2 linked regions of the Homo sapiens genome follow. The protein of the gene in region 1 purifies or fractionates together with the protein of each later gene. This does not show direct contact. Each region holds a gene or a part of one and is shown on either strand. Other genes may lie near its edges.

Region 1 (3,500 bases):
GTGGATTAAAGAGCAAGACCTGGCCTGGCGCGGTGGCTCATACCTGTAATCTCAGCACTTCAGGAGGCCAAGGCAGGTGGATCACCTGGGGTCAGGAGTTCAAGACCAGCCTGGCCAACATGGTGAAACCCCGTCACTACTAAAAATATAAAAATTAGGTGTGGTGGCAAGTGCCTGTAATCCCAGCTACTCGGGAGGCTGAGGCAGGAGAATTGCTTGAACCTGGGAGGCGGAGGCTGCAGTGAGCCAAGATCGTGCCACTGCACTCCAGCCTGGGTGACAAAGTGAGACTCTATCTCAAAGAAAAATAAACGAAACTTTTCCACCAAACTCCAGTCCCAGATGGCTTCACCAGTGAATTCTAACATTCAAGAAAGGAGGGGCCAGGCACGATGGTTCACATCTGTAATCCCAGCACTTCAGGAGGCTGAGGCAGGTGGATCACGAGGTCAGGAGTTTGAGACCAGTCTGGCCAACATAGTGAAACTCTGTCTCTACTATAAGTACAAAAAATTAACCGGGTGTGGTAGTGTGCGTCTGTAATCCCAGCTACCTGGGAGGCTGAGGCAGGAGAATAACTTGAACTCGGGAGGCGGAGGTTGCAGTGAGCCAAGATTGCGTTCCAGCCCGCGACAGTGCAAGACTCCGTCTCAAAAAACAAAAAGAAAGAAAGAAGGGATACTCTTTTTTAAAAAATAGATGAAGGAACACTTCCCATCTCATCTCTTGAGTCCATCATAACTCTCATACCTAAGCCAGATAAGGATTCTGTGTTTGGGGGAGGGGGTGTGCACATGCACCCTTGTCTGTTCACAGATCAGTACTGTGTGCACCCGTGTGTGTTCACGGATCAGTACTGTGTGCACACGTGTGTGTTCACTGGTCATTACTGTGTGTGCACCCGTGTGTGTGCACAGACCAGTACAGTGTGTGCACTCGTGTGTGTTCACGGATCAGTACTGTGTGTGTGCACGTGTGTGTTCACGGATCATTACTGTGTGTGCGCCCATGTGTGTTCACGGATCAGTACTGTGTGTGTGCACGTGTGTGTTCACGGATCGTTACTGTGTGTGCACCCGTGTGTGTTCACAGATCATTACTGTGTGTGCGCCCGTGTGTGTTCACGGATCATTACTGTGTGTGCGCCCGTGTGTGTTCACAGACCAGTACTGTGTGTGCATATGTGTGTATTCACAGATCAGTACTGTGTGTGCACCCGTGTGTGTTCACAGACCAGTACTGTGTGTGCATATGTGTGTGTTCACAGATCAGTACTGTGTGTGCGCCCGTGTGTGTTCACAGATCAGTACTGGTGTGCATGTGTGTGCTCACAGACCAGTACTGTGTGTGCATATGTGTGTGTTCACAGATCAGTACTGTGTGTGCACCCGTGTGTGTTCACAGACCAGTACTGTGTGTGCATACGTGTGTGTTCACAGATCAGTACTGTGTGTGCGCCCGTGTGTGTTCACAGATCAGTACTGGTGTGCATGCGTGTTAACAGACCAGTGCTGTGTGTGCACATGTGTGTTCACAGATCAGTACTGGTGCACATGCATGTGTGTTCACAGACCAGTGCTGTGTGTGCCCATAAGTATATGTTCACAGACCAGGACTCTCAAGAACATAGATGCAAAAATACTTCACAAAATATTAGCCAACTAAGTATTACTGAGACTCCTGTTCTCCACAAGTTGACGCAGAGATGCAGTGCAGTCCCACTCAGAGCTCCCACGGCTTTTCTAGAAATTGGCACACAAACTCCAAAGCGTGTGTGGAAATGCAGATGACCTGGGAGACCCAAAACAACCTCCTTGACAAAGAGCAGGATTTCAAGACTTACCAGAAAGCTACAGTAACCAAGGCAGTGTGGTGTCAGCATGAGGATACAATAGAGCAGTGGGATGGAATAGAAAGTACAGAAAAAAAATTCCATACCCAAAGGGCAGGGGGCCGGGACCACAGCCACAGCGATTCAGTGAGGAAAAAGAGAAAGGAAAGTCTTTTTTTTTTTTGAGACAGGGTCTCACTCTGTTGCCCAAGCTGGAGTGCAGCAGTGGTGTGATCTCGACTCAGCCCGGCTGACTGCAGCCTCCTGGGCTCAAGGAATCCTCCCACCTCAGCTGGGACCACAGGCACACACCACCATGCCCAGCTAATTTTTTTTTATTGTGTGTAGAGACAGGGTCTCGCTATGTTGCCCAGGCTGATGTTGAACTCCCAGGCTCAAGCAGTCCTCCTACCTTGGCCTCCGAAAATGCTGTGACTGCAGGCATGAGCCACAGCACCCAGCCAGGAAACTCTTTCCAACAAAACTTGCATGAACAGCTGGATATCGGAATGGGGAAAAAGTGCACTGCATGCTGTATGCAAAATTTAATTCAGGGCGGATCAGAGATCTAAACAAAAACTAGAACCATTAAGCTTTTTGAAGAAAACACAGAATATGTTCATGAATTTGAGGGTGGCAAAGATTCCTTAAGATGTAGAAACTCCTCTGATAAGAGGAAAAAACCAATTAGACTTCATTGAAGTTTAAAAACTTCTCTCAAAAGGCACAGTTAAGAAGATGAATAGGCAGGCCGCAGGCTTTGCTGCATGTGTCTCTGACAAAAGCCTGTGTCAGTACCAAAAAGACAAAGGACCCAATTAGAAGGGGGCAGATGAAGCCAGCCGACTTGACAGAAGGATCTCTTAAATAGCCGGTACACACATGGAAAGATGTGGAACGGCATGAGTCACCAGTCAGGGACGTGCTGATGCAACCAACGAGACAGGACTAGACGGGGGTCACCCGTCCCTAAAAACCAGGACGGGCTCGGGGGAGAGTGGGCACGGGCCCAGCGGCTGCGCTCTCAGACACTGGATTGGGAAACGTGTGCAGTTTCTTGTGACGTTAAGTACACACCTACTCCCTGACCAGCTGTCCTGTTCCTAGCTGTGAACTCCTCTATAAAGTCAACATTTAACCAAAAACACTTTGATTCATAATTACCGAAAACTGGAAACAACCAAATCTCTATTAACAGGAGAATGAATCAACAGATAATGGTAGCGTCCTGTCCTGTAATACTATTCATCGGTAAAAGGAACAAATTGAGGATCACCCTGCGTCGTGGAGGAGTCTCAGACATGCTTTGCTGAGCAAAAGCAGCCAGACACAGGCCAGCCACAGTGGCTCACACCTGTGATCCCAGCACTTTGGGAGGCCAAGGCAGGAGGATTGCTTGAGCCCAGGATTTGCAGGCTTTTTTTTTTTTTGGTAGAGACCCCCATCTCTACTTAAAAAAAAAAAAAATTAGCCATTTGTGGTGGCGTCTGCCTGTCGTCCCAGCTACTTGGGAGGCTGAGGCAAGAGGATCACTGGAGCCTGGGAGGTCAAGGCTACAGTGAGCAGGGATTATGCCCCTGCACTCCAGTTTGGGCAACAGAGGGAAACTGAGAAACAAACAACAGAAAACCAAGAAGCCAAACCAACAAACAAACACAGACATAGCGTG
Region 2 (4,183 bases), on another chromosome or scaffold:
TTTCATATCTTTCATATCGTAATCCAATTAGCTTTGACCCAATTTTTCTCCATCTCTGGAAGTCCTGGCCTCAAGTGATCTTTCTGTCTCGGCCTCCCAAAGTGCTGGAATTAACAGCATGAGCCACCACACCTGGCCCTCTATCCCTGATAGTGTGTAAGGCAGCCATTTGGGGTCTGAACTACATTCAAAGAACCTTCAGACGTGAAGTATGATATTAAAGTAGCAGTAATTTTACCTCTGTGTCACACAAAATACTGTGAAAATAGAAATACAATAGTTTGCATCTTAAATGAATAACAAACCTGCTTCCAGCACTTTAGTGAGATCAAAAGTGGGCATAATCCCCTCCCTGACATCAGGACCATCTCCAGGCTCATCCTCTATCTTAAGCAGAGCCAGTTCCTGTTGAAAAGCTTCCATGTCAGGCCCTTAAAAGATAAAAAGGTCATCAGTTTACAAATTAAAACATGAACTATGAACAAGGAAATGATAATATTTATTCCCTCATCATTATGAAGTAAAAACCTGTAGGCTAATTATTTCAGGAATCTGCTGCCAGGAAAACAGGAAAGCAGAGATGTTCAAACATTGCCCTTTCCTTTCCCAAGGCTGGCCCTAGACAACTTACTTGTCCCTTTTGTACTCATTTGTTCTTATTCTTATCACATTAAATCAGCGATTTGTTTGAGTCAATCTGACTAGACTATGAGCTTTAGGCAAAAATTTGGCACTGACATCTCCAGCACTTAGTATATTACGTGGTATGAGGAAGCATCAATAAAGGTGTGTTAAAAAGTTTCTTAAAAAATACATGACGTGTCCACAGATGGCAGACTAGGAAGCTGCAAGCTGCCATTCTTCCACAGCAACAAAAAACAGAAAATGGCTGAACAAAGCATACAGGAGCTCTGGAAAAAGGTTTATGGCAACCATGAAAATACCCAATCAATAAAAAGCCTCCGTCAAAGTGGTAGGAAAGCTTAGTGGCTTTTTATGCGTCCTTGTCCCACCCCTCCACACAGCAGCAGTAGGAAATGTTTAAGATTCCTTCCTAATGCTTTCTGTCCTCCTGTTACTGGTATGTCATAAAATACAATGCATAAATAGACCTCCACCACCCATAAGCATTATTCTCCACTCTCCCTTCACCTTGAACGGCAGGTGCTCCTTCATTTTCGATCTCCCCACTAGGTGCAATACCCTGATTATCAGTTGGTGGTTCCTCTTCTTGACGTTTTTCCTCAGTGGGCTCCTGGACCTAAGGGTGTAAGTGTGTGTGTGAATAAAAAGTCAATAATATAAATACACAAATGCATATGTGCATCGAATCACACATCTAAAGACATTTTTCCAACATATATAAACACATATATATGTATATACATATATGTATATATACATACATACGTATATACATACATATATACACATACATATATACATACATACATACATATATACATATATACATATACACACACACACACATATATATATATAGAGAGAGAGAGAGAGAGAAATATCCATATCCATACAGGTAACACCAGAATATAATATTCCTGAACCAACGTTTCCTTCATGAGATGCCATCATCATTTTTTATCAGCATGGAACACCTGTATCAGTGCGTGTACACTAGCTCAAAAATATTTCTTAAAATAAATTGTGTTAATAGGAAACATCAAATGTTAAAGGACTCACAATCACAGATCCAACTGGCTGGGAAGACTCTTGGTCATTTCCTCTTTCTGAGGATTGGGATCTTGTTCTCACATGCTCACTCATATTTCCCACTGAAAATAGAATACTGTTATTTGGAAAAAGTGTATAAGAACTTAGCTATATATATGAACATTCCATGGCAAAATGGTGATTTGTATTTTTTTAATTTTGAAAATATTTTCAACGTAATTCACAGAGCATTGATAAGTACCCACGCTTTCCAATCAAACTAAGGACAGATTTGTTTGTATCATAGTCGAAGAGGCATAGAAATCCCCTTAACGCCATAGCAAAAGACAGAGGACATTTCTGCGTTTTGGTTTCACAATTAGACTCTCCATCATGAAGACATTTGGGGGAAAAAAGGGCAGAGAATTGAAACTGAAATGACTACTGCTTTTGTCCCACTCTGATTTGCTAGGCCCATTTCACCCCCACACCTCTCTCAAAATCAAGTCTTGTTGGAAAGCACAGCCTCGCCCATTCCTTCCATGGCGTCCATGGCGGAGGTGAGAAATTGTGAAACAGAGTGAACGTTATGCTCCTCACGGGACACCTCTGCCAGGCACTCTACAGACCTCGGGGCCACAGTCACCGGCCCACAGCGTTCCCAGTTCCCAGGCCCCTTCCTTACTGACCACATGGTCTCTTCCCGCGTCCCTACCGAGGAGTCTGGAAACTGTCCTCTCTCAGAGGGTTCCAGGAGTTTTCGAGACTCAGACACCTCTAACAGCACCCCCAGCACTCGCCCCATCTTCACGCGATCCCTCCCCTCTGTGGCCCACCTTCCTCCCTCGTCCCTCGTCCCAGCCCAGCCACGACGACAAGTCCCACGGTGGCATCCCGACCTGGGAGGGGCCGGACGACGACCGCGAGGCCCTTTTCCCTCGGAAGCCACGGACTGTGCCGCAGGACCTGTCCAAAGCCAGCTGGCTCCTCCACACATTCACCCACAACTAAATTCCCAGGAAGACCGCTCTGCGGACCTACCGGCTGAGTCTCGGTCAGTGACAAAGAATCAAGATGGCGGAAAGAATGAAGACACTCTCCTTGCAGAGCTGTGTGTGGACAGAAGGCGGGCAGCAAGGCGCATGCGCAACAACAGACACGTGTAGCAACAGACATGCGTAACAACAGACAAGTGCAGCAACAGGTCTGTGCAGCATGCACACTGACTGGGACATTCGCCTCGTGACTGATGTTTTCCTGCGTCTGTGGAGAACCTAAACCACCAGCGCTCCTGACAACGAAAATGAACTTGCAAAGCACTTTTCTTTTTCCCCCGCCCACCCTTTCTTTCACTTCCAGTGGCTTTGGAGAATATGAGCCCCAGGTTACTCTAATAATGTGTTTCAGAAAACTTCACCATCATAGAAATAAATCTTAAATATTTTAATATCTGTTTTATATACGCTTCCATAAATCATTTTCTTGCCTCCTTCACGAGTTTGCTGTCATGCTTGCAATTGTCTAACCCATTCCAATATAAGACATTCATAGTTTTTGGTTGCATTATTGTACGTTCAAAATCTTTGATCCATCTGGACAAAATTAAAGTGGTAGGAACTCAACATTATTTGTTGAATCCCTGTTGCACCCACTGTTTTGAAATGGCTCTTTTATCATCACCTACATCCCCACTCAATTTTGTATGTAACTCTCTTCTTTTAATTTTCTTCCATTGAGTTGTTTATACCTGTACCACTACTACACTATTTTAATTGCTGTAGCTTAAATTATATTTGAAATGTGAAATAATGCTTGCCCTCCCTCATTGATTTCTCCTTTTCTATCAATTCTGACACGTTGGTCTTTCAGATGAACTTCAGAATCATTTGATCAGGTGCTAAAATATTCCTGTTGAGATACTAGTTATTATTTTTATATTACATGTTAACTCTGGGACAATAGCCATCTTCCTATTTTAGAATCTCTCTATCAAAAAAAAGCCACTCCTCAATTCCTCAAGTCTTTTAACATATCCCACACAATGACTGTGTTATTTGCTTCATATTAGTTCTTCACATTCAAATTAAATTTATTCATGGGCACTTTTATTTTTCTATTCCATTGCTGACACGTGTTTGCTTCTACTCCACTATGTTTTTCACACAAGTCAAACAATCTGTTTGGAAACCATGTGATTCTATACCTAGAAAATCCCAGAATCTCTGCCCAAAAGCTCCTTGATCTTATAAACAACTTCAGGAAAGCTTCAAGATACAAAATTAATGTACAAAAACCAGGAGTGTTTCTGTACACCAACTACCTTCAAGCACAGAGCCAAATCAGAAACACAATCCCATTCACAATTGCCACAAAAAGAATAAAATACCTAGGAATACAGCTAACTAGGGAGGAGAACAATCTCCACTATGAGAACTACAAAACACTGCCCAAAGAAATCAGAGATGACACAAATGGAAAAACATTCCATGCTCGTGAACAGGAAGAAGCA

Evidence for each region. Proteins that work in one complex are often made in the same cells at the same time.
Region 2: the proteins of SFSWAP (region 1) and PAGE2B purify together in Homo sapiens (affinity purification with mass spectrometry; one large-scale study listed by BioGRID and IntAct). This does not show direct contact.

Annotation. Positions count from the first base shown.
Region 1 is NC_000012.12:131,791,090-131,794,589, forward strand, and holds part of SFSWAP (splicing factor, suppressor of white-apricot homolog), read left to right. Parts: intron 1-3,500.
Region 2 is NC_000023.11:55,073,647-55,077,829, reverse strand, and holds the start of PAGE2B (putative G antigen family E member 3), read right to left. Parts: upstream 2,801-4,183; 5' UTR 2,716-2,800; exon of another isoform or gene 2,574-2,715; intron 1,811-2,573; exon of another isoform or gene 1,797-1,810; coding exon of another isoform or gene 1,789-1,796; coding exon 1,705-1,788; intron 1,262-1,704; coding exon 1,153-1,261; intron 432-1,152; coding exon 306-431; intron 1-305.